7 linked regions of the Homo sapiens genome follow. The protein of the gene in region 5 interacts with the protein of the main gene of each other region in a biochemical or structural test. Each region holds a gene or a part of one and is shown on either strand. Other genes may lie near its edges.

Region 1 (4,248 bases), on a different chromosome or scaffold from region 5:
AATATATATAATATATAAATATATATATAAATATATATATAAATATATATAAATATATAAATATCTATATAAATATATAAATATAAATATATAAATATATATATATATATATTTTTTTTTTGAGACGGAGTCTCGCTCTGTCTCCCAGGCTGGAGTGCAGTGGCATGATCTTTGCTCACTGCAAGCTCCGCCTCCCGGGTTCACGCCATTCTCTTGCCTCAGTCTCCTGAGTACCTGGGACTACAGGCGCCCACCACCACGCCCGACTAATTTTTTGTATATTTAGTAGAGACAGGGTTTCATCGTGTTAGCTAGGATGGTCTCGATCTCCTGACCTCGTGATCCGCCCGCCTCAGCCTCCCAAAGTGCTGGGATTACAGGCGTGAGCCACCGCACCCAGCCTGTATCATGTTTTATATGTGAAATATTTCTTACACTTTTAGTTAAGTTCAGGATCTACTAGAATATGTGGATTTTCAAAACTTGCAAATAAATCAAATTATTAAGTTGTATTGATACATTATTAAAATCAAGAATTTGAATAAATCTTACCATCAACCTAATTCTCAAAACAGTAAATAAAATATTGCAAACACAGTTCCACATATAACAGCATTTAATAACTGGTAAATGTAGATGAAAATGCAGTCAGTATCAGAGGACCTGTTTATTATATCACTAACTTGTCAGTGGCCTTTTCTAAAATCAAGTTTCTAAAGACACTAGAGAAATCCACATTAATATCCTCAGAAGATTTTTAAACTGAGTACGATGTTGAGAAAAATTATGTACATTTCAGAATACCAGACGGTGATAAATTTTGTCTCTCTGTTAAAATTTGGGACAGTAGAAAAGATTCTACACCCAGATTTGGAGGCTCTGCTTCCAGTTCTGCCAATGAGATCATTTCCTTTACATATCTGTATTTCATTTCTTTGATAGTAAAAAGGGAGTAAGAGTATCTGTTCCCACTTAACACAGGGTTGCTGTAAAGGGCAAATGAGATAATGCTGAAAAAAATGAAGTACTAGATAAAAGGAGGGTGCTTGCTTCTTTCCCCTCCTAACTCTAGTGATGTGGCCTTGAGAAGCCACAAAGGGTGAAGAAGGAGCCGGAGAAACTGATCAAAGGAGGTAAAGAACTCCTGAGGGCAAACCGAGTTGAGGGTGAAGCTGGAGGAAGAGACAGGCAAAAAAGATGGGAGTCAAAAACAACAAAGCAGCCACCAGACACTAACCAGGTGCTTCTCCAGAGTCCCTGTGCTGAACATCCATGGTGATGGGGGCCTAGGAAAGCAGAAAAGCAAGCATTCCCAAACAGCGGGCACTCGAGAGAATATACTGGCCCCTGTGGGAAAGGCATTCTAAGAAGGCTCTGGATTGGGGTGACAGAATAGGGTCCCATATGAAGGTAACATTTGGAGAAATCTGGATCCTCCTTAAGAAAGATGGGTGAGACGCTGAAGGGAAAGAAGCCAAGACCTGTGTTGACAGTAGATGACTGCACTGCATGAGGAAGCTGGTGTTGCTATCTGTTTTAGCAATATGGTGGGTTTAAAAAAAAAAGAAACCAAACAGACTAGGACTCCTGTCCCAGAAGGGGCTGCCTCTAGCTAGTACTGTGAATTTAGAAGATTAACCTAATCTTGGTTTCCTGAGTTTCTTGAAGTATAAAATGAGCTGGACTGGATAATTCCTAAGATACTCTGAAGTTAAAAATCACAACAGACATGGTGGGTCACACCCACAGTCAACACATATCATTGACTAGGTTAATTGCTGAGTGCTTAGCACTGTTCTAAGAATAACGTCCAACAGGCTGATCTTTAAGAGATATGAAAGTGTGCATCAGGAGTAAAGCCAAAAATGTTGGGGGAAATCTTATGAGATCTCATGGGGCCAAAACATAAGCAGGAGGTTTCACTTCTACAAGCGGAGCCACTACTGCCAGCATGCTCTGACTCAACAGCAGAACTCCAAAATGCACTCATGACCTAGGCAGTTCCATTTCACAGACAACGTTGTTCAAACACAAATATTTGGGATGGTTTTAACTACGTGAATACTGAAGGCTATACTGAAAACTGCCTGATGTGGCATAAATAGCTAGTAATGAACAATCGAACAATCAATACATCATGTACTTATCCATCCACTCAACACATATTTATATACTAAGTGCTAGCCACTATTCTAGACACTTACATCAATGGACAAAGCAAATAAAGCTCTGTAATTAGCAGAGGGCGCAGACATCAACAATAAACATAACAAGTCAATTCTGGGTTTACAATAAAAGTGTTAAGTGCAATGGAAAAAAAGATGTGGATCAGGTGGTGGGTGGGGAGCACAGGTGCCACAGTTTTAAATAAGATGATCCCAGGCCTTGTTGGGAAAGTGGCTGTGAACAAAGATGGGAAGGGTTTCTGGGAATCTGCTCCCTACCGTGCAGGTTCTAGGGGAAGAGCATTCTAAGCAGGACATGCCCTAGACAATGCCTGAGCCGGCGACAGCATGCCTGTCAGTGCAGGGACCAGCTGTGGGATCCATCTCTACAGCCTCCTGCAGGACTCTGGCAGTGGAGGAAATGCTCATTTGAAGCTAGACCTCAGGAATTCGGGTGCCAAAAGTGGCCTCAGAAAACAAATCTGGCACTTATGACAGACTGACTTAGAGGGCTGACTCTGTTATTTAGGAAGATGAGGTGCTTTGTTAGTGGGTGATGACAGTTACTTTCATGTTCTATTTTCATTATCAGTTTTGCAGGTTGCCTTCATTTTCCCCCTTTTCATCATTTCCCCCTTTTCATCATTTCTTCCTTACCCCCTTTTCATCATTTGGACATAAAGCTAAAGATGCAAAATTCTCAAACTGTTCAATGTATGTGTTATTGTTAACCTGATCATGAGTAAGATACCACCTTGCTTACATCTTAAACATCAGCAGATATCTCACCAACTTCAGCCCATCTTCCTTGAAATTTCCTTTAAGGGCATGACCAGCTCAGACGGTGACTGATGCAGGTCTAATAATTTTATTTCTGTGTGTAGTCTGTGGACAAACACTTTTTTATTGACAAGAATTTCCATAGTGTTGACTGTATTCATGAACCTGATTATAAATGTATAAATAAATAAAACTAGTTCTTTTAAGCAGCTCTGCTTAATGGACTGAATGAAACATCAGAAATACTGGCTGTAGCATCACTTAGCTGTAGAATGTTAATGGGCTTCTCACCGAGACAGCTTTTTAAAATATCAGTAACTCAAAAGAACTTGATGTGTTTATCAAAATACTTTATTTTGCTTTCTCCTTTCTTGTAACTGTCCTGATATGTAGGTATGTATACGTATATATATTTTATTCTGGTCGTGTCTGAACTTGGCTGATCATCAACACAACTTGAGAATTCTTTTAAAGATAGTGATTTCTGGGCCCTATTCCAGAGCTAGTTAATCTAAATCTGTGGGATCAGGACCCAAGAGTCTATTAAAATATGTAATATGTCTATATCTATAAGCTCTGAAGATGGATTCTGAAGTTCAGCAGGGTTTAGGAATCACTGGCCTAATCTACTACTTTGTGACCCCAAACAACATTCTATGTGTATAGTTCATGGTTCCATATGCGGCAAGTCCAGACTCAATTCCTTCTTCCCTTCATTTATTCACCAATGATAAACTGTAGACAGATACCACTACTGTCAGTTTCTGTACTTTACTTTTGAGGGTGCTGCATCGTAGCGTATTTAAAGAAGGTCATACTTCATGTGAATTTTAACATGCTGGTATCTTCTTAGTGATAAGCAGGTTGAAATATAATTCTCTTTGAATTTGGAAATGAGAATCAGAAAGGCTTTTCTAAGTCCCCTCATTCATCTTTTCACACAGTTAAAATCATCTACCAAGAGAGTCCCAAGGCAAAACGTCAAAAAAACTGATGCTTCAATTACTTCCATGATAAACTTACCAAATGGCTTTGGAGCTTACGTCTGAACATTTTTAGTGACGTGGAACTCATACCTACAGGCAACCCATTTTGTACTGTCAGGTCTGTTAAATGTTAGTGTTAAAAAGTCACAGTTTAAAAGTTTACTTGTATATAAGGAACTGTGATCTGTAACACCCTGCCCCTTCTTCTCATAGATTCTAGTTCTTTTACCCTTTAGAATGTAGAAATCTTTTCTCCAACATGATATAGGTCCCTCCTACTCTTGCTCAAATTAAATAAGTCATGATTTTAAAAAAAT
Region 2 (4,248 bases), on a different chromosome or scaffold from region 5:
ATAACATTCACCCTTGAACAGCAACTCCTGCTCACTAAAGAACTGAGTAAACATATATGGGTCTGACCATATGTGAACATTCATCACTAACAGCTTTCCCCACTTAGTTCTTTTGTTCAGAGAGTCCACATATCATCTATTCTAATACATACAAAATAAAGGCAACATTGCTGAACTCAGTGGATTTTTAAGGTAAGCAATTATTTTATTTCCTTGGCCTGATGGCATTGACTTCATTATACAAGAACTTGCAGCTGACAGAACTGACACACACATTTCCCCCAAGAGAAAGAACCCTTTTCATTAGCAGAGATGAATTGAAATGTCATGTCTGAGTGCAATTCCTGCTCCCCACTCCCACCCCACAAAATCCCAAAAGTGAAAATAAATCAATAAAATCCCCATGATTTACTAAAAGTCATCCCTCCAAACCTTTCTAACTAGCAGCTGCAGTGGATGATAACCAAGGAGGGAAGCAGCTGGCCATCATGTAGCATTCCTGTGCATGTGAGCCTGAAGGGACAGCAGCATGGGAGCAAGAATCCTGAATGAGAGTAGTATATAATTACCTTACTTCATACTTGCCCCCTCCCTACATAAGACACCTCTGTCCTGATACATGGAAAATACTAGAGGAGATGCTAAGAGTGGTTTTAGTCTACAATTGGAAATGCCTGAGACTTATTAAATTCCAAGGAAGGGGTGAGATAAGGGGCACCAAAGAGAAAGAGCAGGTTAGACAGGGATGCTCAACACTCTTGTCAATTCCAGTTTAATGCTATTTAATAACAAAACCATCTTCTTAATCACAACCACCTTCATGCCTAACCCCTATTTTCCAAAGGTAAGAGATCCCTGTCTAAATTTCTGGGTTGTTGTCTACTGCCACCCCTGGGGTGGTACTGTGATGTCTGAGTGAGATTGCAACCGGGATGGGAGAAAAGAAGTGTGAGACAGGGAAGATCAGGGGCCACAATGCATCAATTACAGTGGGTCTCTTTTGGTCCCCAGGTATGGTCCACTACCACAAGTCCCCTTTCCCTACCTGTCTTGTGCAAATGTCAAAAATAGAATCTCTGCCCAAAGAGAAGGGAGCACAGGGAGTTGCTGCTGGACTGCCATCATCTCTGGCCCCAACTTGTCCACCTCCTGACCCATCTATGAAACTGCACAACAATTAAACCCCAGGAATACTGTAAACTTACATCATCCCCATTCCTCTATCAAAGCCAATCCAACAGCTCTGTCCTGACATGCTTTCTCCCTGGGCCGAGGAAGCAGCAAAAAATATCAATTGAGCATGTGAAAATGTGATGACGGTGTGTGTGGTGTAATGTTTCTAGATGTCTTCACCTTCTGTCTCCTTGCGGTGGGAGCCACCCTCTTTCCCCATGTCGCGCACACACACCCCTCCCCTACCCCCAAGTCCAGGTGCTCCCATCTGCTGGGCTTCCAACCACTCATTTCCCATAGACACTCTCATCACTGTAGGCCACATACAGAAAATAGTCTTCCTCATGATTGTCCTAGGGGAAGAGATAAGACAACAGTTTAGAAAACATATTCATTCATTAGCTCTAAGATGCTGAGCCTCACACAACCTTGTAAAGCAGGTATGGAAGGTATCATTAGTCCCCATTTAAAAGAGGAGCAAAGGATAGGGAGAAGTGGTTGGAATTACACTTTGAGCTCTGAGTTCACAAACAAAAATCCTTCATTGAAAACATATTACACATAGGTATCAGGGATATGAAGATGACTAGGGCACAGTCCTCACTCTTAAAGAGCTCACTCCTAGCAAGGGGAACATAGATACCACAGATGGATATATAATGGGACATATACTAACAGGGAATATATGCTATGCAAAAAAAGATTCAGGATTATTAGAAGTTTACGTAATTCATTAACGGAGCACAATGAGAAGGAAGCATCTTATGCAAAATACTGCAAAAAACAATAGTTATAATCCCAGGTTATATTTTCAGTAATAATAAAGTCCTTCACTATAGTTTCCTCAGATTCTGACACTTCCAATTAAACCACATCACATAAAAATTATTCCTCCTGAGTTTATCTGTTAAGACATGAATCCATTTACAGACTTTGCCTTAATTTTATATTTCATTTTATCTGATTCATTGTGCCCAGATAATGTGGAATCTGTTTCACAGTTTTAGTTTTGTTCTAAGAAAAGTTTCCCCTTGTTTAGTATCAATGTGGTTGTCTTAAGCCAAAACTTCAGAGTTCATAGAAGAAGCTGACTGTGGGGAGAATCCTTCAGTTGGCAGAGGCTGGCCTCAGAGTTAGAAGGAGCTGGCTTTACTATTACGTGCTTTCTCAATCTGTTGCTAAATGGGAGTAAAATAATGAACTGGATTCTGAATGCATTACAAATTACATGCTACCAACCAGAATAGCAGGAACTGCGATGGGCTGACGCTTTGGAACTTTTGCTATCAGGAATCACTTCCTGCTGTTTCAATAAACAGTCCAGCATTAAAACACTATAGTCAGACAAGACTATAGTCAGACAAGATTTCAGAAGGATTAAATCTAGTAGAGTGGCTAATCCCTAAAAAACAAGAGGTATCTAATCTCTCAGAGCCTTACACTGCCATATGTAAGAGGATCCGGATAAATAACACCTTCTGCCCCACTTCTCAGATGTGTTATCAACGCATCTAGAACAAGGGCTAGAGGATGCCAGACTGCACTGGACGGCATCCAGTATTGTGCAACCAGAACCATTACCTCATACAGTTGGCCCATGGTAGCACTGGTGGGAGGGATGGTGTTGTTGACAAAGAAGAATAAGGCGTCCTCAGGTCTCAGGTGGATTCTCTTCCGGATTAAGAAGTAGAACTGGCCAACTGGATGATGGAAGAAGAAAAGGGCAGAAAAGAAAGTAAGAAAACAAGGAATTAGTAGAAGGGTAAGTCCTGGAAAAAAATTCAATTGCATTTTTTCACCTTAGAGTCAGTACCAGCTTTATATACCATCTGAGAAGAGCCAAATACCGGCCTGGAGCTTTCAAAATAAAAAGGGAAACTCGGAAGCCCACACAGTCCCTGACTTGCCATAGTGGAATTTATTCCTCCTTTCCCCTCTTATTCAATCTCAGACCTCATGTTAGCATATCCACTCAAAGCCTGAGGACTACGTTGAAGGAATACCATGTGCATCCAGACCAAAACATTCCCATCACTGTCTAAACCTGACTTGAAACTCTTTCCATCCCCAGACCCTCCCTAAGAAAAACTTAGCAATGGAAAGGGGTCCACTGGACTCTGGTCATCTTAGCACAGTCAGTCACCTCAGTGTTGGGGCATTAAACAAGGTTCAATGCTTTGCCTTTACTTGAGAATACTGAAAATTTTCTAGATGGCTGATATTCAAACCTATTAACTCTGGAGCAAATCAACAAAATCTTTCCAGTGTGTCCTGGATGCAGTGTGTATTCCATTAAGGATCACGATGAAGACTGAATATATGTATTTTTTTTTTTTCCGAGACAGAGTTCTACTCTGTCACCCAGGCTGAAAGCGCAATGGCGAAATCTCGGCTCACTGCAATCTCCACCTCCCCAGGTTCAAGCAATTCTCCTGCCTCAGCCTCCCGAGTAGCTGGGATTACAGGCACGCGCCACCATGCCCAGCTAACTTTTGTATTTTTAGTAGAGACGGGGTTTCACCACGTTGGCCAGGCTGGTCTCAAACTCCTGACCTTGTGATCCACCCGCCTCAGCCTCCCAAAGTGCTGGGATTACAGGCATGAGCCACCACACCCAACAATGAATATATGTCTTATAATCTCAAACAAAATCTACAAAACTTAGTTTAAAAAAATGTAGCTTAAGAAGATGTATTTAATCAGGAAACTCTAAAATATAATCCTCTCAAGAAGCCAGACTGGTTTTCTTTTTGGAACAAATTGATATCACAATTAACAAAGCCGAATTTTGGGGTTTTTTTTTTTTGTTTTTTGTTTTTTTGAGGCGGAGTCTCACTGTGTCACTCAGCCTGGAGTGCAGTGGTGCGATCTCGGCTCACTGCAACCTCTGCCTCCCAGGTTCAAGCCATTCTCCAGCCTTGGCCTCCTGAGTAGCTGGGATTACAGGTGCCCAACAACACACCCAGCTAATTTTTGTATTTTTAATGAAGACATGGTTTCACCATGTTGGCCAGCCTGGTCTCAAACTCCTGACCTCAGGTGATCTGCCCACATCCCCGTCCCAAAGTGCTGGGA
Region 3 (4,248 bases), on a different chromosome or scaffold from region 5:
TCAATTGATTCTCACAAAGGGGAGCCCCAAACCATCAGAAGCTTCTGGGCTTTCTGCTCCCAGGTTAGGCTGTCTTAGGAACTGCAGCCAGTGGGGCATCTGGACGTCAGGGCGGTGTTGACCTCACGGCCCCAGTTTTGTGCCTTGCCTTGTACCCCCTCTTCCAGCCTCTGTCCACCAAGCCTGGCAGTGGATTAAGGGAACCCTGCTGGCAGACCCGAAGAGACCGTCTGGGGCCTCTTGGGCCAGCAACGGGCATGCTGGGGTCGTTGCCAGCCAGGTCTGCGGTGGGCCTGGCAAGGACAAGGAGTATTACACAGATAGTCAATTACCTCCATGTTCAAGGCCATGGGCCCCAGATGGGCCTGTTGATTCCAACCTTCCCAGCCAGTCCGAGGATGGGCAACCTTTTTCTGGTGAAGGCCTTCTCATCACTAGGCACTCTGTTACAGAGTGACCGCTAGGGAACCAGGCAGAATGGACCATCGAGTCCAATCCGCCCCACCATCATCGCTCACCTCTATGAACACACAGCTGCTCCAGACACTAGGCCACACACAGCCAGAATCTCTCTGCACCCTCAGCACAGGGACTATTATCACCCCACTTTACAGACCCATCAGATGACAGTGAAGGGGGGCACAAAGGGGACACGGCCAGCAAGTTTTGACGCCTCCATCCCTCTGGCCCTCGGTCTCACTCCTAACCCACCCACAGCAGGGCAGGTCACTTGATGAGACAGATGGGGTCTGCCAGCAGGTTCTGTGGGGCTTCTTGGTGACAGGGGAGACAAAAGGAACTGCCAGCACTTAAAACCCAGGAGTTTTATGTCAAAATCTAACCATTCGGCTGCCCTGGAACGGAAAGATCTGGCCACTCAGGGCCCATGTGGCAATGGTGGGCTGAGCAGTGGCCACAGTGCCTTTAAACTGGACTCTTGCCCCTGGTTCCCTGGAGCCCACCCCAAAGACAACTGAGTTTGCTTCCCTGAACCATGCTCCCCCAGCCTCGGGGAGCCCCTGGCACAGCATGGTACCATCCTTGTCACTCCAGAGGGTGCATGAAGAGTAGGTCCGTCTCCCGCACAGCTCCCGCACGTGCCCCAACCATGCGTGCGTTACGCAACACTTTGTAAAAAGCAAAAAATGGGCCCTCGGCTTCAATCTCCTTCTCTCAGCATGTGCACCGTACAGAACCCGAGGCTGGCAGCAGCACAGCCTCCGAAATTCACCGTGTAAGAGTTCCTTCTCTTTGGGCAGGATCCCAGACACCGAGGTGCCTGCAAACTTGGTCTCTGGATGCTAACACCTGAAGAGAGAAGGCCACACCGATCCTCAGGTTTGGACCCTGCCACCAGCACCTTCCTCCAAACATTTTCTGGCTTTTAAACTATTGACCGGACTATAAACGTTTAAACCCCCTGGCCCTGGGCCACGATGGGAGTGGAGATGGTGGGGGCAGGCATGTGGGCACACCTGACCCCGTGGCTCTGGGGCAATTTGGTGGCGGGTGCATCTTGCAGCATGGAGGCTTCCTTGGGGCTCCTGAGGGAGGCAACTCTGCTGTAGACGCTTCCAGCCTCCACAGACCTCCCGACGGCCTCCCTTCTCCTGGGCAGCGGCACACAGGGGTCCACCTTCCTTCTTTTATGGAGAGGGTGCATACCTTCGCACCTCTTACAGGGGAGAATGTGCACTCTTCCTCCTTTTCTTCTTACATGCCCAGAAGTTTTAACCATTCCCAACCCAAAGAGAAGAGGGCAGGAAAGACAGATGGGGTAGAAGCTGTGTGTGCCTGTGTATGACTGTGTGTGCGCGTGTGTGTGTCTGCACGTGTGCGCATGCAAGCACCCACTCACAGGCGCGTGTGTGTTTGTACAGGAACAATTAGTTATTTTGTGCTTTGACAAATGCTAAACTCACCTCGACCCTGGGTCACACTGGGCAGTGTAGCTGGCTTAACCCAGACCTCCTGGGAAGCTGAGGCCAACTGTCTGACCTAAGATTCGGGTCATAGAACTCAACTCCCTTAATAACTCCCCTATTGCACCACAACCTAAAACCCAGACAGTCAGAAAACCTGTGGGTGAAAAGTCCCAGGGTTTAGCGGGTCCACAGGGGAGAACAGCTGGTGTTGGACATCTGTATTTTAACCCCAATCCAAAACATCAGCTTTCACTAACGCCAGGGTCTCTCCTTAGAAAAGCAAATCCAAGACGAAAACGGGAAAACTTCATCTCAAGAGGAAGCCCCTATCTTTCCTTCATGGCACACAACAGGCACTCAGTAAAAGCTGAGTGGATGAGTGGCTGCGGAGTGGCCACAGGCCTTCACAGGGACGAACGTCTGACGGGAATTAAGGGTCTCCTGGCAACGCAGATGCTGCCCTCTGGCCCTCAAGCCCCTTAGGAGAAACCACTAACTGATTAAACAGTGGTCTCAGTAGGGGGCATTTGACCATGTCTGGAGACATTTCTGGCTGTCAAACCTGGGAGAGGGGTGCTGGTATCTAGTGGGTGTGGGAGAGGGGTGCTGGTAACACCTTACAGAGCACAGGACGGCCTTTCCTGCCCCCCAACAAAGAATTACCGGGCTCAGAATGTCACAGTGCCAAGGCACTGTCTCTACACCCTCACTTGATTCAAGCAAGTGTCAAACAGCATGTGCCAGGCAAGCCCAGGGAAACCTGGGTGTCCTGTGAGTTTCTGATATTTTCTCATATTTGTTTGGAAAAGGTTGGAGAAGAAGAATCAGAGGCTCGGTGACTCTGGCCAGTGGGTGATGTTAAAAAGACAGCTGCCACCGTAGATACCACCAGAGATGGGCCCAGGGCAGGGGCACCTCCCAGAACTCTCAGGAAACGCCTCCCGCGTGAGCAGACACCGGGTGGCCCCAGGTTCAGTCTTTCCCGAGAGCGAACTTAGCATCCATCTGGGCCCCAGAAGTTTGAGGCAATAACCAGAGGAGAAAGACCGGGGGTAATCTCTGAGACGCAGCAGAACTGAAATGAGGTAGATGAGGTTGCCAGGAAAACCAGGTGCCAGGAGTCCTTTCCTCAAAAGTAGCCGCTTCAAGCTCCAGGCTGACATCTGCAAGGCTGTCACTCGTGCTGCCTGCTTTTAATCCCAGGACCCTTGGCTTTTTAAAAGAAAGGGTTTTCCCACGGGTATGTTTTGGGAACACTGAATTCCCACCAGACAGCAGCCTCATCCCTCGACTCTCAGAAAAAATGGGGCCCCAGGAGTGTCCTGTTACAGTCAAGCCCACTCCATTCAGCATCCTGAGAGCAGACGTGGCTCCCGGCGTACAAAGGGGCTCTGACAATTTCCCCCAGCCCCCAATTTCAAGGAGGACCTGCTCTGGGGCCCAAGTACCAAATTCAAGAGGTGTGGGCGTGCAGTCCAAGAGAAACCACCCTGGCCTGGGGCTGGTGTGGGTTTTGGACCTCGGGCAAAACTTTCCACGGTGGACTTTCCTCATCTGTAAGTCAGGGATGTGAACCCCGAGCTTGCGTAGGCTCCTCTCAGGTCTGAAATTTGGGGTAGCTGAAGACCACACAGGGGAACCAGCAGTGGGTGGGAAGCCCGGTCCAGCCTGAAGACCTCCAGCCAGGCTCAGCAGGGGAGAGGCCCTATCTTGAAAGACTATAGAATTCTAGATTTCATCCATCACGGCCTCATTCTTCAGATGAAGACAGTGAGGCCCATCATGGCTTAAGGACCTAGCAAGGTCAATTTCCTTCTGCCAAAAGAAGGTATCTTACAGGATAGGAGCCACTTGGACACTGCCTCAAAGCCCAACTCCAAACCATCCATCAAGTTCTCGTTGCAAACAACTCCCAGCATGTACTAGATGAAAAACAGCAGCCACTACTAGTTAAAAGAAAAACCAAATACTAGCTTTTTTCCTTTCTTTTTTCCTTCCCTCCTTCCTTCCTATCTTTTGGTGTAAAGAAACTCCAGGAGACACCAGGCCTTACCACTTCCTCACCCTAGTCTCTCGGGGAAATCTGATGAAAACAAACTGTTACAGTATACCTGCATTTTAAAGACTGGTTGGTTCCCTCCGTGCCTTGCAGCTTTCTTCCAATAAGTAGGGGGCTGTGTATACACAGAACACAGGACTAACTGGGGCACCCAGGGGCCAGCTGGAACAGGCTAGGGTTCCAGGTATTAACCCCAAGGGTCCCAATCACTCAAAGGCTGCTGGCGGCGGCGGGGCAAAGTGCAGAGGGCGGCGGCAAGGCATT
Region 4 (4,248 bases), on a different chromosome or scaffold from region 5:
AAATAATAAAAACATGAAAAAAAAGAAATCCTAAAGGAAAATTTCCAGGCTAAAGGGAAATGATACCAGAGAGAAACAGATTTTCAGGAAGAAATGAAGAACATCAGAAATGGCAAATATCTGGATAAAAACAAAAGATAATTTTCCCCTTATTTTTTAAAAAATGCACTGTACTGTAGGGTTTAGTACATATATAGATAATACATATGACAGCTATAATATAAAAGATGAGGGTAGAGTGGGGTAGATGCACCTACATTGTTTGCAAATTTTGACGATGGTCTATGAAAATTTAAAGTCATTTATTCTCAGCTGGGTACAGTGGCTCATGCCTGTAATGCCAGCTCTTTGGGAGGCCGAGGTGGGCAGATCACTTGAGGTCAAGAGATCGAGGCCAGCCTGGCCAACATACTGAAACCCCGTCTCTACTAAAAATACAAAAATTAGCCAGGCGTGGTGGCACGTGCCTGTAATCCCACTACCTGGGAGGCTGAGACAGGAGAATTACTTGAACCCAGAAGGTGGAGGTCACAGAGAGCCAAGATTGTGCCACTGCACCCCAGCCTGGGCAACAGAGTGAGACTCTGTCTCAAAAAAATAAAAATAAAAATAAAGTCATTTATTGTAATCTTCAGAGCACCACTGAAAATGTGATGCAAAGAGGATAACTAGAAAGTCAACAGGTAAATTAATATTAAATTCTAAAACCTATTCAAATAATCCTAGAGAAGTCAGGAAAGGAAGAATAAGCAAACAAAGAAGAGAAGGGACATATAGAAAACAAATAGCAAAACAGTAAAGTTAAATCTAACTGTGTCATTACATTAAGTATAAAGGGGCTAAACATCACAAGTAAAAAAAACAGAGATCATTAGATAGGATTTTAAGAGGAAAATCTAACCACATGATGTCTATAAGATAAGCACCTTAACTATAAGACACAGGTTGAAAGAAAATGGAAAGAAAAATATGCCATGTGAAAAGTAGGCTTTAGAAGATTGGACTGGCTGTATCTATCAGAAGAAATAGACTTAAAACAAAGACTTTTACCAGAGATAAAGAAGGAAATTTCCTAATGATAAAATGATCAGTTCATTAGGAAATAATAATAATCATAAAGATGTGTGTGTGGTTGGGCACGGTGGCTCATGCCTGTAATCCCAGCACTTTGGGAGGCTGAGGTGGGTGGATCACCTGAGGTCAGGAGTTAGAGACCAGCCTGAACAACGTGGCAAAACCCCGTCTCTACTAAAAATACAAGAATTAGCTGGGAGTGATGGCATGTGCCTGTAATCCCAGTTACTCAGGAGGCTGAGGCAGGAGAATTGCTTGAACCCAGGAGGCAGAGGTTGCAGTGAGCCGAGCCGAGATCATGCCATTGCACTCCAGCCTGGGCAACAAGAGCAAAACTCCACCTCAGAAAAAAAAAAAAAAGTATATGTGCCTAATAACAGAGGTTCAAAATACATAAAGCAAAAATTGACTGAATTAAAAGAACCAAAAGACAATTCTACCACTAGAGGTGGAGATTTTAAAACACTCTTAGTAATGGACTGACCAACTAGGCAAAAAATAAATAAATAAATAAATAAATAAATAAATAAATAAATAAATAATTACTCTAGACATAGATCCTACTTTATGAGTTGGTTAAGTTGGTGACTGGGAAGGATCTTCATGAGATGAGCTCTTGTAGGAGGGACACTCCATTCTTTGTAACACTACTGATGAAGGAAAAGTAATAAAAACGTTTTAAAAATGAGTATGTCTATTGCACCACTGCACTCCAGCCTGGGCGACAGAGCAAGACTCCATCTCAGGAAAAAAAAAAAAAAAAAAGAGTAAGTCTGAAATATTTCTATTCCTATTTCTCTATGTGTTCTGCATTAGTTTTTCTTGTAACTTTTTTTTTTTTTTTTGAGATGGAATTTCACTCTTTTTGCCCAGGCTGGAATGCAATGGCACAATCTTGGCTTACTGCAACCTCTGCTTCCTGGGTTCAAGTGATTCTCCCGCCTCAGTCTCCCAAGTAGCTGGGATTACAGGCACGTGCCACACCTCCCGGCTAATTTGTGTATTTTTAGTAGAGAAGGGGTTTCACCATGTTGGCCAGGCTGGTCTCTAACTCCTGACCTCAGGTGATCCACCCACCTTGGCCCCCCAAAGTGCTGGGATTGCAGGCATGAGCCACCACACCCAGCCCGTAACATAATTTATTTAGGCTTCAAAAATTGTCCAAGCAACATTTTCTTTTTCTTTCTTTCTTTTCTTTCTTCCTTCCTTCCTTCCCTCCCTCCCTCCTTTTCTTTCTTTCTTTCTTTTTCTTTCTTTCTTTCTTTCTCTGTTTCTCTCTTTCTCTCTTTCAGTGAAAGCAAGTTTATTAAGAAAGTAAAGGAATAAAGAATAGCTGCTTCACAGATAGAGCAGTCCTGAGGGCTGCTGGTCAAGCACCATTTTCTAGACCTGTCCTGTACAGATTTCCCTCCCTTTCCATTTTCTTTACATAACATCAAGAATCATTTATGTTCCTTTGGTAATGTTTCATTCTACATTGCTTCTTCATAACACATGTGCTGTAGATCTTACTAGCAGTATTAGCCAGCAGATGGCTTGTTTATTGTGGTGGTATACTGCTGATGGACTGAAATGATGGCATAAATAGGCTAATTCACTTTTATGTTTTTTCTTCTTTCTTCAAAAGATATAATAAAACAAGACAGAAAACAATTTTTTGACAGATGAAATTGATAATGTTTAGACCGTAAGTCTGGTCTTTGAAAAAAAAAAAAGCCATCAGAAAGTTTCTCACTTTCCTTCTCAAGTCCTCCTGTTTCTGCTAATAGGCACAGCCTCTGACTCCCTTTTATGAAGAACAGATTATAGCACAGATTTAGCCCAAGCTGTTTCTGCTAGGAGAGCTGCTTCTTCCTAAGAAGCGTGCTATAGAACTGGGCAGTCCACTCTCCATTCTCCTAGCCTTGGTATTTTCTGGCTGCGAGCTTTGGATATGTCAGCTAACCTATTCAGCTTATTATTTCATTTCTAATAGAGGCATAACAAGGAAAGGGCTGTCTCTCCTATTTCAAGGGATTGCGGCAAACACTACATTAGATTTCTGTGAATACTCCTTGTAAAAGCGTGAGGCATAATACAAATATCAGATATCAGCGTGAGTTTTCTATTTCATTAGACCTATTTCATTAGAAAAGGTGAAAGCTCTATTATCACTCTCTTAATTGTTTTAGCTCCTTTTTGCTTCACCTTCCCTTTTATTTCTAGTGTCTACTTTGTGCAATTAGGCCTCACGGCTCATGTGTGTTTGTGAAAAAGAATTTTTAAATGTCTTCTATTTGCTATGAGAACATACCCTACTCTTTGTCTAAGCGTAATTTCTAATCATATAACCTGAAGCATATTCTCCGATCTCATAAAGTGGCATTCTTCTGATTCTGATTAGATGTACAGCCCTAATATCATAGTGCAAGTATACATGCCCTCCCATAAGTATTCTGAAGTATGATTCACCCTAGGTTTTCAAATCTCTTCCTTGCCCTAGAAAACAAACTTGGACTCATGTGTTTGCCCACTTTATTCAACTCCTCTGTCTTCTACTCCAGCAAATAGACTCATTCCTCATTCCTCCCAACACTTAAATATGCTTCACAATCCACAAAGCTGTACCTGATGATATATATATATATATATATATATATATATATATATATATATATATTTTTTTTTTTTTTTTTTTTTTTTAAATGACAGGCAGGTAATGTGCAGACATCATAACAAGGCTTGAAGGAGGCATATCTCACACAGGAACATGAAAACCCAATCATCACACTTATAAACGACAAAGGGATCTAGTATATACGTTTTAGATACTGAAAAGAAGACATAACAAAAGGACTTTTAGGGTAAAATTGATTGCAAGGCTAGGTATGGTGGCTCACACCTGTAATCCTAGCACTTTGGGAAGCCGAGCTCAGCAGATTGCCTGAGGTCAGGAGTTCGAGACCAGCCTGGCTAACATGGTGAAACCCTGTCTCCATTAAAAATACAAAAATTATCCAGGCATGGTGGCTCATGCCTGTAGTCCCAGCTACTTGGGGGGCTGAAGCAGGAGAATCGCTTGAACCCTGGAGGTGGAGGTTGCAGTGAGCCGAGATCGTACCACCGCACTCCAGCCTGGGCGACAGAGCAAGACTCCGTCTCCAGAAAAAAAAAAAAAACAAAAAAAAAATTAAT
Region 5 (3,939 bases):
ACTGATTGTGATGGAGGGACTGCATAGGATGCATTGCAGGGGAAGAGATGAGCGGAACAGAAAGAGGAGGCTAGTGTGATAGGCTTTAACTTTCAAGGAAAAAGACAAAAATCTACTAAGTCTCTTTCTTCATAATGAGGTACTGACATTCTAATACCTTAGTTTAATATCATTTATAAAATAAATGTCTGCCGTGATGGACAGCAAAGCAAGGACTTCTTGTACAGGTGGGGCATGCTGTGGGCTAGCTGCTGCCCGAGTTGGCTAGAACAGGAAACGTGGAAGCAGAGGGCCATGGCCTAGGTCCCCAAAATTAAAAGCTATGGCCTGGATTATGGCAGAAACAGGGGGCTGGAACAGCACCTTCCCAGGCTGGCTTGAGTGGGTGGGAGTGGATTCCCTTCTAACTGGGAAACTAATTCTCATGCCTGAGAGGAAGGAGGAAAAGACACTTCGTTCTGAATTAACACTCCGAACTCTTTTTCTCATAGAAATGATGTTGTAAATAGTGGTTGGCTACAAGAATGGCTTCTTTGATGAGCAGCAAGGTGCCTGAAATCCAGTCCATTTTTAGCTATTATTTTTATCTTCTGGCTATTTCACTAACAACCAGACTTATGCAATACGACCTTTTTGTAAAGTGGAAATTAATTATCTGTGGTTGAGAGTTTATAATCATGTTAGTTCATCAGGTAATAAGTTTAGGATTGCACTGAAAATTTAACGTGCTGCTGTGAGGAACTAGACCAGAAGACATCACCCAGCATACTGACTTGGAAACACTCCTATTTTATAATGAACCACAGTTTTGTTTTGTTTTTTAAAATCAGAATAGAACTTTATTTGTGGATTCAAGATTTTAAAAAATGATTTTACACTTTAAAGTGTGCAATAAATTTTGATACATCAATCTTGATATATATATTTACTGTGTCAGAAGATTTTAAAAAGTCAAATAGTTTATAATCAAAATGAATTGTGTTTAACTTGATACTTATATGGAATAACTTCAGCATTATAAATAAAAACCCAAAACAAACACCATTTAAATTTGAGTTCTGATGAAATGCATTTGTAATACAATTTTGTTAAAAATTTTTAATAAGAGATTGTAGGCTAAAGTTATATGCTTGTAATTTCTAGAAACATATGATGTCCTTGCTTTATGAAAATGATCCTACTGACTGTCCCGCAGTAGAATGCATTTGAGACACTTTTCTATCTGGGATAAGGGGCTGTGTTGCTTGATAGATGTTTCTTCCAGACCACGAGCCCCTAGTGGGAGATGAAGGGGATGAAGGTCTGCAGCTGGGGACTGGTGGCAGTTGAGTCTGGTCTCATTTAACATCATGTTCTATGAGTCACAGAATCATCCAAATGAGTATCAGCCAGATACAAAGAAAGCTTTGTATTTTCTCATGCTTAGATAGTTCACAAACATAATATTTAAATAATTGTGGCAAAATCCTGTTTTAACAAAAATAATTTTCACATTCCATTCTACATAATGAGGACATTTCCAAAATGCATTGGCCCACATTACTATTACTTTGCTGATATGAAGAAAATGAATTATGATGGTAAGATCCATATACAGATATACACATGTGTATCCATATTATTTATATATTTAATATCAGAAATGTTCCTACTTCCTTGTCTCTTAGAAGTCACTTTACTTTTAAATGATTCTTTGGGAGTGTGGTCAATTTGCACACCTGACTTGACACAATCTGACGGTCAGCACAAAGCACCTTCTGATTGTATAACACTTTACAAAGTACTTTTTGCTTTCTCATCTGTCTGGAACTTCTGACAATCTGGCATGACAATGAGGGTGGGCATGATTACTCTCATTTGACAGATGAAGAAATATGAATCCAGAGAGGTTAAGTAAGCTGCTTCAGTTCACATGGCTGGTGAGATATCAAACCAGGACTATACCTGGTGCTCATCCTTGACTGCTGGTTGACAATGGTGAAGACAAAACGCAGGGTACATTAATCTGTGAATTGCTTCCCCTAAACCATGCTGATGCTGTGGTGTTTGGAAAGTAGAAAGTGGTTTTGCTACTGTCACATTTCAGATTTCTATCAGGTGCTAATGAGTACTCATCATGTTATACCCCAACAAACTTAAACCAAGAACCAGAGGTACTTTTTACAGTTCTCACAGGGTGTGTATATATATATATTTAAGAAGATTCGTAACATATATTTACAATTATTCCTAAATCACCAAGATACCATACTGAGAAATAGGTTTAATCTTTTTAAGAGCATTTTCTATATAATCATTCCAATATAAGGATGAAACAATATAAGTATGAAATATAAATACAGTCTTGGCACACTTTATCTTTGCAGGTGTGCTGGAACCTAGAACACTTTCCCTTTTGCCTTATTCTGCTTACGCCTACTTTTGATTGTTTTACAAATTCATAGACACATTTGCAAGTTCCTTGAGGATCAGGACTCAGCTTCTCTGAAGCTGACAACTCTTACCCCAGAGCATAGCACAGCGCTAGGCACGCAGCATTCAATAAACGTTTGATGAATACATGTACATGGTCTTTATGTACTTCAGTTTGGTTAAAGGAAGATATGAACTGTAGCATTTTGCCTACAGAATTCTGGATTTGTAATTAAAAACATTGTCTTCATAGTAAACAGTATTTTAAAAGGCATAAGAAATAGTAATAAATTTAATACAAATTATGCATTATAACAACTCTTTGGTTATTTTAAACAAATTATTTGGTTTTTTTACTAGAGTGATACTAAAAATATAAAAATGCGACTACAGAAATTAGCTTAATCTGTAAACATGATAAACCCTGTAAACATACATTTACTACATAATTGTACAAGTGTAAAGAATATCTAGTAAAGGCAAGTGCTATACACTTCATTTAGTTCTTCAAGGCATATTTAGAAATACTGCTTTGTGGATCTTTAATGTTTGAAGAAGGAATTCTTCTAACTACACTAAAATATGAAAAAGTGATGACTATACCAATGGTCAATAGGATATGCAGGCAAGAGAAAGGCTTTAATACTTTTTACCCATTGCAAATATGAATTTGCTTCACATGTCTTATGAACCATCTGTTTAGTAAAACTGCATATTAACAAAAGCCAAATACTTCGAAAGTGAAGAAGTAAACAGTTTTTCTGTGAGTTAGTTGGCTAGAAATATAGGTAACACACTTTCCAAAGTTTTTTCCCAAAAATCTAGGCAGTAAGGTGCATAAGGCAGGTCTACAAAATAATAAATAGCTGCGAGTAGCACTAAATATATTGTAGTTTACTCAATAGTAAAGTATTTCTTTTTCCAAATTTCAGTTTTCCATCTCAAAATGCATCAAACTTTTCACACATGACACGTATCACAAATATTTCACAGTTATCATCTCAGTAGTTTAAGAAAAAACTGCCTGGCAGATACTATACAAGAGGTAAATGTTAAGGACAAAATTCACTATTTAAGTCATACAGGACTTATATCCTATTGTGTGAACTCTAAAGCCAGGTGTGGTGGTGCCTGGCTTTAGGCAGGCACCTAACTCTAAAGACAGCATGAAACAACTGTGTAAATGCAACACATTATTTAAAAGTGATTAAAAATAAGTTGTCGTACTATTTCTTCAAATGCTTTTTATATGATTTTCTTCAAGATCTGGGAAGACTCAGTGGCCACATTTTAGTAGTTCCCCGGAAAATTTTAAGTCAAGATTTTGGTTATAAAACTATGGCAGTAAAAACACTACAGATTGTTATTTGTAATCTAATCAACTCCATCAAAGCCCTGGGTGTTTTCAATTGCCATCTGAAGTTTATCCCATAATTCTTCAAATGATTCATAAGGTGGCAAGTCCAGGCGATTAAAACTGAAAGAACAGAGAGGAAGTGGTTATGAAAGACACTGACAAAGCAAGTA
Region 6 (4,248 bases), on a different chromosome or scaffold from region 5:
GCGGATCCCCTTGGCCCCTCGGATCAGTCTGAGGATGCGGCCTATTCGGGCCAGGCGGATGACTCGGAAGAGCGTCGGGGAGAAGAAGTACTTCTGGATGATGTCCGAGAGCACAGTGCCTGTGGGAAACAACAGAGACTGTGGCTACTGGTGGCACCTCTGTCTTCCAGCCAGCATCACTGTGCAGGGGTTGGCGGTGGGGGGGGGGTCTCTATATGGCAAGGAGCCAAGGAGAGGCGGCCCTTCCAGGATTGCGTCCACTGGGCATGCTAGGACTCTGCCTGCTCCTGTCTGTTTGAGTCTCCATGTCTGCATCTGTGACCCAGAAAAATGGGTCCTTTGCAGGGTTCCTTCTCAGCCCCCTCATTCCTTAATCTTCAGTGTGTACCTACACAATAGAGCTGTCCTAGGCCCATCTTCTACATCTTGGGTTCTCAGGCCAGAGGGGATCTGCTTAGTATCTTGCCCACCCAGCTTGGGCCAGAACTCAGGTCTTTTAGCTCCTTGCTATTCAAAGTGTGGTTTGAGGACCAGCAGCCTTGGGATCTCCTAGGTGCTTATCAGAAATGCAGAATCTCAGCTCCACCCCAGCCCATTGCATCTTAAGAAGCCCAGATGATTTATGTGCCCATCGAAGGGCATGAAACACTGGCCCAGAAATCAGTGCTCCCTGATGCCACGCCATGGCCAGTGTCTTCTCTCAGCTTCTCTGTGATGGTTCTTATCGCTCTCCTAACTCTGCCTCCTTTGAGGGCGTCACTGCCCCTGGGTCTCCTGTGACTACCTGGGTTTGGAGTTTTAAGGGGCATGGATATAAATCATGGAATAAAGAGTGAAATAAACTTGTCTTATATGGCCCAAGTGCCCTTTCCAGACTCCTTATATAATAATGTCACTGACTGACATGGGTCCAGTGTTTACGATCACTGGGGCAATGGGCCGAGCACTTTATAGCCATCATTTCATTTAGTCCTTCCCATTGTCCTAGGAAGTGAGCAGATGCCATCATCCTTATCTTCCAGAAGAGGAAACAGAGGTGAGGTAACTTACCCAAGTTGCCACCTAGTGAGTGAGAAGCTGGGATTTGACTCAGACGTTCGGGCTCCAAGTTGATCTCTTAACCACTCCTCCTCTCTGGTACCGCCCAAACAGCGGGCCAGGAGAGATCCCAAAGTACATGCTGAACCTTCCAAAGCCTCTGAGACTGTCCCTCAATGGTTCCATTCCTGCTGCTGACATCCTGCATTCTCTAAAACTCCTCTCCAGTCCCATAAGGCACGCTCTCACCCTCATCCTGCTTGAGACCCCCCAGAGATTCCTGACCCTACTTTGTGCTTCCATCTTCCCGTCACTATAGCCACAGCAGTGCCTGCCTTAGCCCCTGCATTATCCTTTACATTTACCAGAGGCAGAGGTTGTATATGGCAGAAAGATGAAAGTCACAGTCACCGCAAGGCAGAGCCCCTTGGGGGTAGAGTTAAAGAGTTTGGGCTCCGAGCACAAGTGACAAAAGAAAAAATATAAGTAAACTGGACTTCATTAACATGTAAAACTTTTGTGCTTTAATGGACACCACTAGGAAATGAAAAAACTCACAGACTAGGAGAAAATATTTTTAAATCATATATCTGATAAGAGACTATGATCCAGAATATGTAAAGAACTCTTACAACTCAACAAGAAAAAGAGAAATAACCCAATTAAAAATGAGCTAAGGATCTGAATAGAGATTTCTCCAAGGAAGATATATAAATGACCAACATGCACATGGAAAGATGTCCTGCATCGTTAGTCATCAGTCATTTGCTTTTGCAAACCAAAACCTCAGTGAGATATCACTTCATACTCACTAGGAGGGCTCCTATAAAAAGAATGCAGGCAATAACAAGTGTTGGTGAGGGCAAAATAATTGGAATCCTCATACATTGACAGCGAGAATGTAAAAAGGTGCAGCCATATTGAAAAACAGTTTGGTGGTCCCTCAAAACTTTAGATAAGTGGTTTTCAGGGGTGAGGGAGAGGGGAAATGAATGGGGATTGACTATTAAATGGGTAGAGTTTCCTTTGGGGAAAGGAATATATTCTAAAATTAGATAGTGGTGATGGTTGCAAAGCTCTGTGCATATATTAAAAAACACTGAATTGTATACTTTAAAGTGACTTTAAAGTTAACCGTGAATTTTATGGTATGTGAATTATGTCTCAGTAAAGCTGTTATATAAAAAAAAGATCTGGGCTCCGAGGTCAAACAGACATGGGTCAGGATTGGGTCTCTGCTTCTCCCTAGCTGCACAATCTCCCTCCTTTGGTGCTGAATTGACTGGGTGAATTGCATGAGGCAGGTGATGTCTGAAGGAGTCTGGCATACACCTTGGCGGTTAGCTCCAGAATTTTCCATCTTCAGGGATAATTTCTACTCTGGAGGGCCACCTATCCCCCATCCCTGGGGACCCATCTCATCCTGAGCTTCCTTCTCCTTCAACCTAAGTGCAGGCAGAATTAGCCTCCACAGCACCCACTCCCATTCCCAGACTCATCCTTGAAGCTCTCTAAGCAGTTAGAGAACTGTGTTCCCAGTTCCTCTGGAGGGTGGGGCCAGGAGCAAGTGCTGGGTCCTCTGCCAGATTGGTCTCCTTGGCCCAAGTGGGGCCTTCCAGATAAGTTCTCTCTGGAGAGGTGTGTGTGCGTGTATGTGTGAGGGGAGAAGGGGGGTGAGAAATGCACTGAAAAAAATTATGAAAGAAGCTAGGGTTGTACATGGCATTCAGCAGAGACCCAGGGGCTGGAGGAGAGGCCTGGCTGGGGAGGGCTTCTCCGTCCAGCTGACTTGTATACCCACCCACGATGGAGAGGATGACAACCACGAAGTCGAAGATATTCCAGCTGTTGGTGAAGTAGTAGTGGCGCAGGGCAGCCAGCTTGACAATACACTCGCCTGTGAAGATGGCCACAAAGAGCAGGTTGATCTTGGCCAAGATGTTGATTTTCTCAGGACTTTGGTCATCTGTCTCCACCATCATGGTCACCATATTCAAGCAGATCAGAAACATGATGGTGACGTCAAAGGCCTGCTTGGTCACAATGTCGAATATGAAGCCCTGGTACTTGTTCTGAAAGGAGAGGCAAATGGAAAGTGCTCAGCAGGGCCCTTGGGGAGGCTGGCAAATGCCTGTTGCTGCCTCTCATCCCAGACCACCCACCCTCCCACTCTACCCTCTAGTGAGCCCAAAGCCCCTGCAACACTGCCACAGAGAGTGCAGAGGAAAAAGTCCTGGAGGCTAAAGCCACTGGCTGTCCTGCTGAAATGCTTCCTGGGCTTCAAGGCCCATCCCCAGAGCTCCATCTTCCATGAGGCCTTCCATGATGGATCTTCAGGGAGAGATTGTTCCTGCCCTGAGCATCCTTAGCACACTGTTCATTGTGCTTCCCTTTTAGTTCCCACAGTCTGAAGGCTCAAGGGCAAATTTAAACTTCAACCTTAGTAATTATGTCAGTGCTTAGATTAATATATTTTCTCCACTTTTTTATGGAATTTATTTTATTTATTCTACTAACCATATTTGTATGTGTCTTTAATTGTAAATCAGCCCAGATTATTTGGGGAAAGAAATAAGATTTTATATATATATATATATATATATATATATATATATATATATATATATATTTTTTTTTTTTTTTTTTTTCTTCTGTTCTCCCACTTGGAAAAGATTATAAATAACACACACACACACACACACACACACACACACACAATTTTTTGGATAATGGCTTGATTGGGCCAAGGGAGTCAGTCTTGGAGAGGACCCCGCTCTCCAGAGCTCTTGGCTCTCCCCACCAGGTGACTCAGGAATCCGGCTCCCTGACTGTTCTGGGGTTCCAAGGATGAGGCTGTGAGTGGGGTGGGGTGGGGCTGTGAAGGCTGCACTGCTTTTCCTGGGGAAAGCCTGCATCCTTGAGGGGAAGGAGGAGATTTGCTCAGGTACAGAGGGTTCCTGTGGGTGGGGAGTGTCCTGGGATGCTACATCCTTATCATACCTTCCTCCCTATCTCTACGAGGCTGGGACCTCTCTTCATGATCAGACATCTGATAGTGCCCCTCAGGCTGGGCTGAAAGACTGTGAAGCGGCTCTGATGGCTGGCCATGTGGCACGAAAGCTTCCCAGGGACCCCAGAAGATCCTCCCCACTCCCACAAAACCAGGAGCCTGGCTCACCAGGGGCCGTGGGATGGGCTTCTGGGGCTTCT
Region 7 (4,248 bases), on a different chromosome or scaffold from region 5:
ACGCCTGTTATCCCAGCACTTTGGGAGGCTGAGGCGGGCAGATCACGAGGTCAGGAGATCGAGACCATCCTGGCTAACACGGTGAAACCCTGTCTCTACTAAAAATATAAAAAAATTAGCCGGGTGTGGTGGCGCGCACCTGTAGTCCCAGCTGCTGGGGAGGCTGAGGCAGGAGAATGGCCTGAACCCGGGAGTCGGAGTTTGCAGTGAGCCGACATCGTGCCACTGCACTCCAGCCTGGGTGACAGAGCAAGACTCCGTCTCAAAATAAATAAATAAATAAATAAATAAGTAAATATTGGCTTCTTCAACTGGTGAGATGAAACCTATACAATAGTCATGTGAATAGCACTAAACAGCTGACATGGTGTAACTCCTCTCAGACTGAGGCTTATCTGGGGAGTACAAAGCATGTCAAGAAAATGTGCCTTCATTTCCTTAGATGAGTGTCCCCATCCTCCACTCTCCTCCACTGTTCTCCTCTCTGCTTCTATGATATCAACTTTTCTTTTTCTTTAGATTCCACATGAGTGAGATCATGTGGTTGTTTGCCTTTCTGTTTCTGGCTTATTTAACTGAACAAGAAAGTTTTTGACATGAAATTAAACTTCTGCTTGTAAACTCAATTCAAACTATTTACACTGTCTTCTCAAAAATGTTAACTTATTTTAATAAATCTACTGAATGACCGTATCTCATTTTGTTTTATGAAAAGAAATTGTAAGGGTGCTCAATAGCCTCTTCATTTTCATACTGTCTAGCTCCTGTGCTCCTATTAAAATTACTGCAAATTTAGCTTTTTAAGAACCCTTTGTTTCACTACCTGAAGTTCTATAAAAAGATCCAAGTTCCTTCACAACCGTTTCTTATGCTGTTATTCGTACATATGTGATAATACCACGTCTGAACACGTAGATAATAAGTAGGGGCTGGGTGCGGTGGATCATGCCTATAATCCTAGCACTTTGGGAGGCTAAGGCGGGTGGATCACCTGAGGTTAGGAGTTCGAGACCGGCCTGGCCAACATGATGAAACCCTGTTTCTACTAAAAATACAAATAATAATAATAATAATAATTAGCCAGGTGTGGTTGTGGGCACCTGTAATCCCAGCTACTCGGGAGACTGAGGCAGGAGAATAGCTTGAACTCAGGAGGCGGAGGTTGCTGTGAGCTGAGATTGTGCCATTGCATTCCAGCCTGAACAACAAGAATGAAACTCCATCTCAAATAAATAAATAAATAGAAGTATGTATTGTGTTGCTTAGAAGGTGTGGTGGAAATTAACTTGCTGAGTGAGATCAAAGGATTGGCACTGAATTGAAATAAAGAAATATTCATGCTGAGTCTGGTTCAAATATAACTGCACCTGTAAGAATTGCTTTCTGTAAACTTTCCATAGTATAAACCAAATCCAAATCACTCATGGCTTTACATTCCTGATCGTTAAACTTGAAGCACTTTTTAATACTGCATGACTTTAGCCAAAATATCTTAGCCAAGATTCAATGTTTGGTTGAACCACACTCACTTGGACATCTTGGTGGCTTTTGTTTCTTCTGACCACTCAGTTATCTATGGCATGTGTAGATACAGGTGTATGGAAGCCGATGGCTAGTGGAAGTGGAATGATTTTAAGTCACTGTTATTCTACCACCCTTTAATCTGTTGTTGCTCTTTATTTGTACCAGTGGCTGAGAAGACCAAAGAGCAAGTGACAAATGTTGGAGGAGCAGTGGTGACGGGTGTGACAGCAGTAGCCCAGAAGACAGTGGAGGGAGCAGGGAGCATTGCAGCAGCCACTGGCTTTGTCAAAAAGGACCAGTTGGGCAAGGTATGGCTGTGTACGTTTTGTGTTACATTTATAAGCTGGTGAGATTACGGTTCATTTTCATGTGAGGCCTGGAGGCAGGAGCAAGATACTTACTGTGGGGAACGGCTACCTGACCCTCCCCTTGTGAAAAAGTGCTACCTTTATATTGGTCTTGCTTGTTTCAGGCATTAACCCAGATAAATGCCATGCAAATTTTATAATTATTATGATTGTTTCAATTTCTGGAAGAAAGTTAATGAAACAAAAAATGTAGTAAAATGCCAAAGGAACAGTGACATTTCAGAAAGAATGAGGGCTTTCATGTTAATTGTAAGTCTTGGAATTTCTCTTCCTTGGAGTAACAAATCCCTTTGTGCCTAATTTCCTAATTTCCAAAATAAAGTTCTTTTACTTATTTCTTTATAGTGACATCATCTCTTATTAAATGGCATATCTGCATATTACATAACAGTTCATTGCCAAATACATATTTGTGGGAAATGAGAGACTTAAAATACATACCAACCAGAGATATAGTTTTGAGGTAGATTTTAAAATTCTGAGAAGAATTTTGACTGAATTTTTTTGACAAACATGGGACACGAATAAGATTATACCAAAGATATTATAACTTTCATTTTAAATATGGAACTAATACAGTATGAGGTGTCAACAACGTTGAAGTTTCACAAACATCACCACTACAACAGCAAAATAATTTTTGCTTTTTCCCTGCCACAATGACCTCCTTGCTATTTCTTGAATAAATCAAGCATACCCTTGCCCTGACACGTTCTTGGGGAGGCCTGCCCTAATCTATATAAAATTGGAGCCATTCTTCTCACCTCTGGTATTCCCAGTCTCCCTACTTTTTTTCCTTCTTTCTTTCTTTTTCTTTTTCTTTCTTTCTTTCCTTCTTTCTCTCTTTCCTTTCTTTCTTTTCCCTTCCTTCCTTCCTTTCTCCCTTCCTTCCTTCCTCCCTCTCTCCCTCCCTTCCTTCCTCCCTTTCTTTCTTTCTCTTTTTTCTTTCTTGCTTCCTTCCTTCCTTCTTTCCTTTTCTTTCTTTTTCCTTTCTTTGCCAAAGTGTTATTCACCTTTAAATATAATACATAATGTGCTTACTTTAATGTATGATTTTTATTTTATTTCTCCCTTCTAGAATGTAGGCACCATGAGAGTGAAATATATTTATTTTGTTCATTGATATTTCACAAGTGTCTGGGAGAGTTTCCAACTTACAGTAGACAATTAACAAACATTTATTAAATTAAGGAGGGAAGGAAGTGAGTAAGCACAACAACTTTCATTTCTGGGTCTTTTATAATCATATGCTTAGTATAAGAACAGTGCTATTCAGCTATCCAAAAGTTACAATCAAAATGATTTTGGATGAATATCTTGAAAATTGTGAGAAAGAAGTTTTATTTGCTGGCAAACTATTCTGGGTTGTTTCCACTTCATGTAATCCTAAGTAGCAGCCTTACCTTGATAGCCCATTAAAACTCTGATAATAAAAAGGCAGAACAAAAATATCTGTGATATATTTAGATTTACTACATGTACTTACATGTCTAGTGTCTGGTGCAATGGATGCTAATGATGGCAAATCCTTACTGGGCTTCTAGTGAAGTTCTTCAGCTAATGTTTGAATGCATGGTTGGTCATGGTGGTACCCCTTTGTACAAAATATGCTTTTCAAATAATCTTATTAGGGATAATAATTATATTAATTCCTGGTTTCCATCTAAAATTTTAATTCTATTTATAGCTTCGTAAGATTTCACAAGTTAAGAGGGACCTCAGATTAAATTAGTACACAGGCAATTAATCAGTTTTGTGTCTCCGACCCTTTTCACGGGCTAATAGAAGCTATAGACCCTCTTAGCTTCAGAAAAATGCGCACTCACATACGCACATCAAAGAGCTTAATGGGAAGTCCATTGACAGACCCTCTGTTCAGATCAATCTTCTGATTGTAGAGATGAGGAAACAGAAATCTACAGAGGAAGTGGGTAGTCCAAGATTGCACAGTCATTTGGAATAGACTGGACACCAGTAGTACTTTTCCAGCCACTATATCACTTCCCCAAGCACTTCCTCAAAACTTACCTTCCTTTGGGTCTTTATACATTCAGTTATGGACAACTAGATTTAACTAGAGGATTTTATTGCTTCAGAATATTAAGCAACAGGGAAACATGTACCGTCTTTTATTCACCTGCATTTAAGGCATACAATATAAATTGCAAATGGAGCATGAAAGTGCTTAATCTTTTACAAAACTGGGTTTGCTTTCCACCCATCTAAAAATACTTCTATTTATTTTAATATTTAAAGCAGAAATCTAAGTGATGTGACAAAATTAATCATTTGGAGATATTTCCCTTATAGGTAGTATAGTTTCTTACTGATTTCTAATATGAAAATGAAGCCATAG

The links.
Region 1: the proteins of NEDD4 (region 5) and RAP2A form a complex in vitro, tested with the Homo sapiens proteins (2 studies listed by BioGRID).
Region 2: the proteins of NEDD4 (region 5) and GABARAPL1 form a complex in vitro, tested with the Homo sapiens proteins (2 studies listed by BioGRID and IntAct).
Region 3: the proteins of NEDD4 (region 5) and PMEPA1 form a complex in vitro, tested with the Homo sapiens proteins (2 studies listed by BioGRID, with this or other methods).
Region 4: the proteins of NEDD4 (region 5) and SGK1 form a complex in vitro, tested with the Homo sapiens proteins (3 studies listed by BioGRID, with this or other methods).
Region 6: the proteins of NEDD4 (region 5) and SCN5A form a complex in vitro, tested with the Homo sapiens proteins (3 studies listed by BioGRID, with this or other methods).
Region 7: of the proteins of NEDD4 (region 5) and SNCA, one has a biochemical effect on the other in vitro, tested with the Homo sapiens proteins (3 studies listed by BioGRID).

The regions. Positions count from the first base shown.
Region 1 is NC_000013.11:97,457,836-97,462,083, reverse strand, and holds part of RAP2A (ras-related protein Rap-2a), read right to left. Parts: intron 1-4,248. UniProt on the Homo sapiens protein: Small GTP-binding protein which cycles between a GDP-bound inactive and a GTP-bound active form. In its active form interacts with and regulates several effectors including MAP4K4, MINK1 and TNIK.
Region 2 is NC_000012.12:10,219,065-10,223,312, reverse strand, and holds the end of GABARAPL1 (gamma-aminobutyric acid receptor-associated protein-like 1), read right to left. Parts: intron 2,874-4,248; coding exon 2,755-2,873; coding exon of another isoform or gene 2,602-2,754; exon of another isoform or gene 2,331-2,601; intron 1,527-2,330; coding exon 1,461-1,526; 3' UTR 185-1,460; downstream 1-184. UniProt on the Homo sapiens protein: Ubiquitin-like modifier that increases cell-surface expression of kappa-type opioid receptor through facilitating anterograde intracellular trafficking of the receptor. Involved in formation of autophagosomal vacuoles.
Region 3 is NC_000020.11:57,703,321-57,707,568, forward strand, and holds part of PMEPA1 (protein TMEPAI), read right to left. Parts: intron 1-4,248. UniProt on the Homo sapiens protein: Functions as a negative regulator of TGF-beta signaling and thereby probably plays a role in cell proliferation, differentiation, apoptosis, motility, extracellular matrix production and immunosuppression.
Region 4 is NC_000006.12:134,202,652-134,206,899, forward strand, and holds part of SGK1 (serine/threonine-protein kinase Sgk1), read right to left. Parts: intron 3,864-4,248; exon of another isoform or gene 3,760-3,863; intron 1-3,759. UniProt on the Homo sapiens protein: Serine/threonine-protein kinase which is involved in the regulation of a wide variety of ion channels, membrane transporters, cellular enzymes, transcription factors, neuronal excitability, cell growth, proliferation, survival, migration and apoptosis.
Region 5 is NC_000015.10:55,826,111-55,830,049, forward strand, and holds the end of NEDD4 (E3 ubiquitin-protein ligase NEDD4), read right to left. Parts: intron 3,890-3,939; coding exon 3,787-3,889; 3' UTR 812-3,786; downstream 1-811. UniProt on the Homo sapiens protein: E3 ubiquitin-protein ligase which accepts ubiquitin from an E2 ubiquitin-conjugating enzyme in the form of a thioester and then directly transfers the ubiquitin to targeted substrates. Specifically ubiquitinates 'Lys-63' in target proteins.
Region 6 is NC_000003.12:38,551,440-38,555,687, forward strand, and holds part of SCN5A (sodium channel protein type 5 subunit alpha), read right to left. Parts: coding exon 4,217-4,248; intron 3,111-4,216; coding exon 2,840-3,110; intron 120-2,839; coding exon 1-119. UniProt on the Homo sapiens protein: Pore-forming subunit of Nav1.5, a voltage-gated sodium (Nav) channel that directly mediates the depolarizing phase of action potentials in excitable membranes.
Region 7 is NC_000004.12:89,819,830-89,824,077, reverse strand, and holds part of SNCA (alpha-synuclein), read left to right. Parts: intron 1-1,689; coding exon 1,690-1,832; intron 1,833-4,248. UniProt on the Homo sapiens protein: Neuronal protein that plays several roles in synaptic activity such as regulation of synaptic vesicle trafficking and subsequent neurotransmitter release.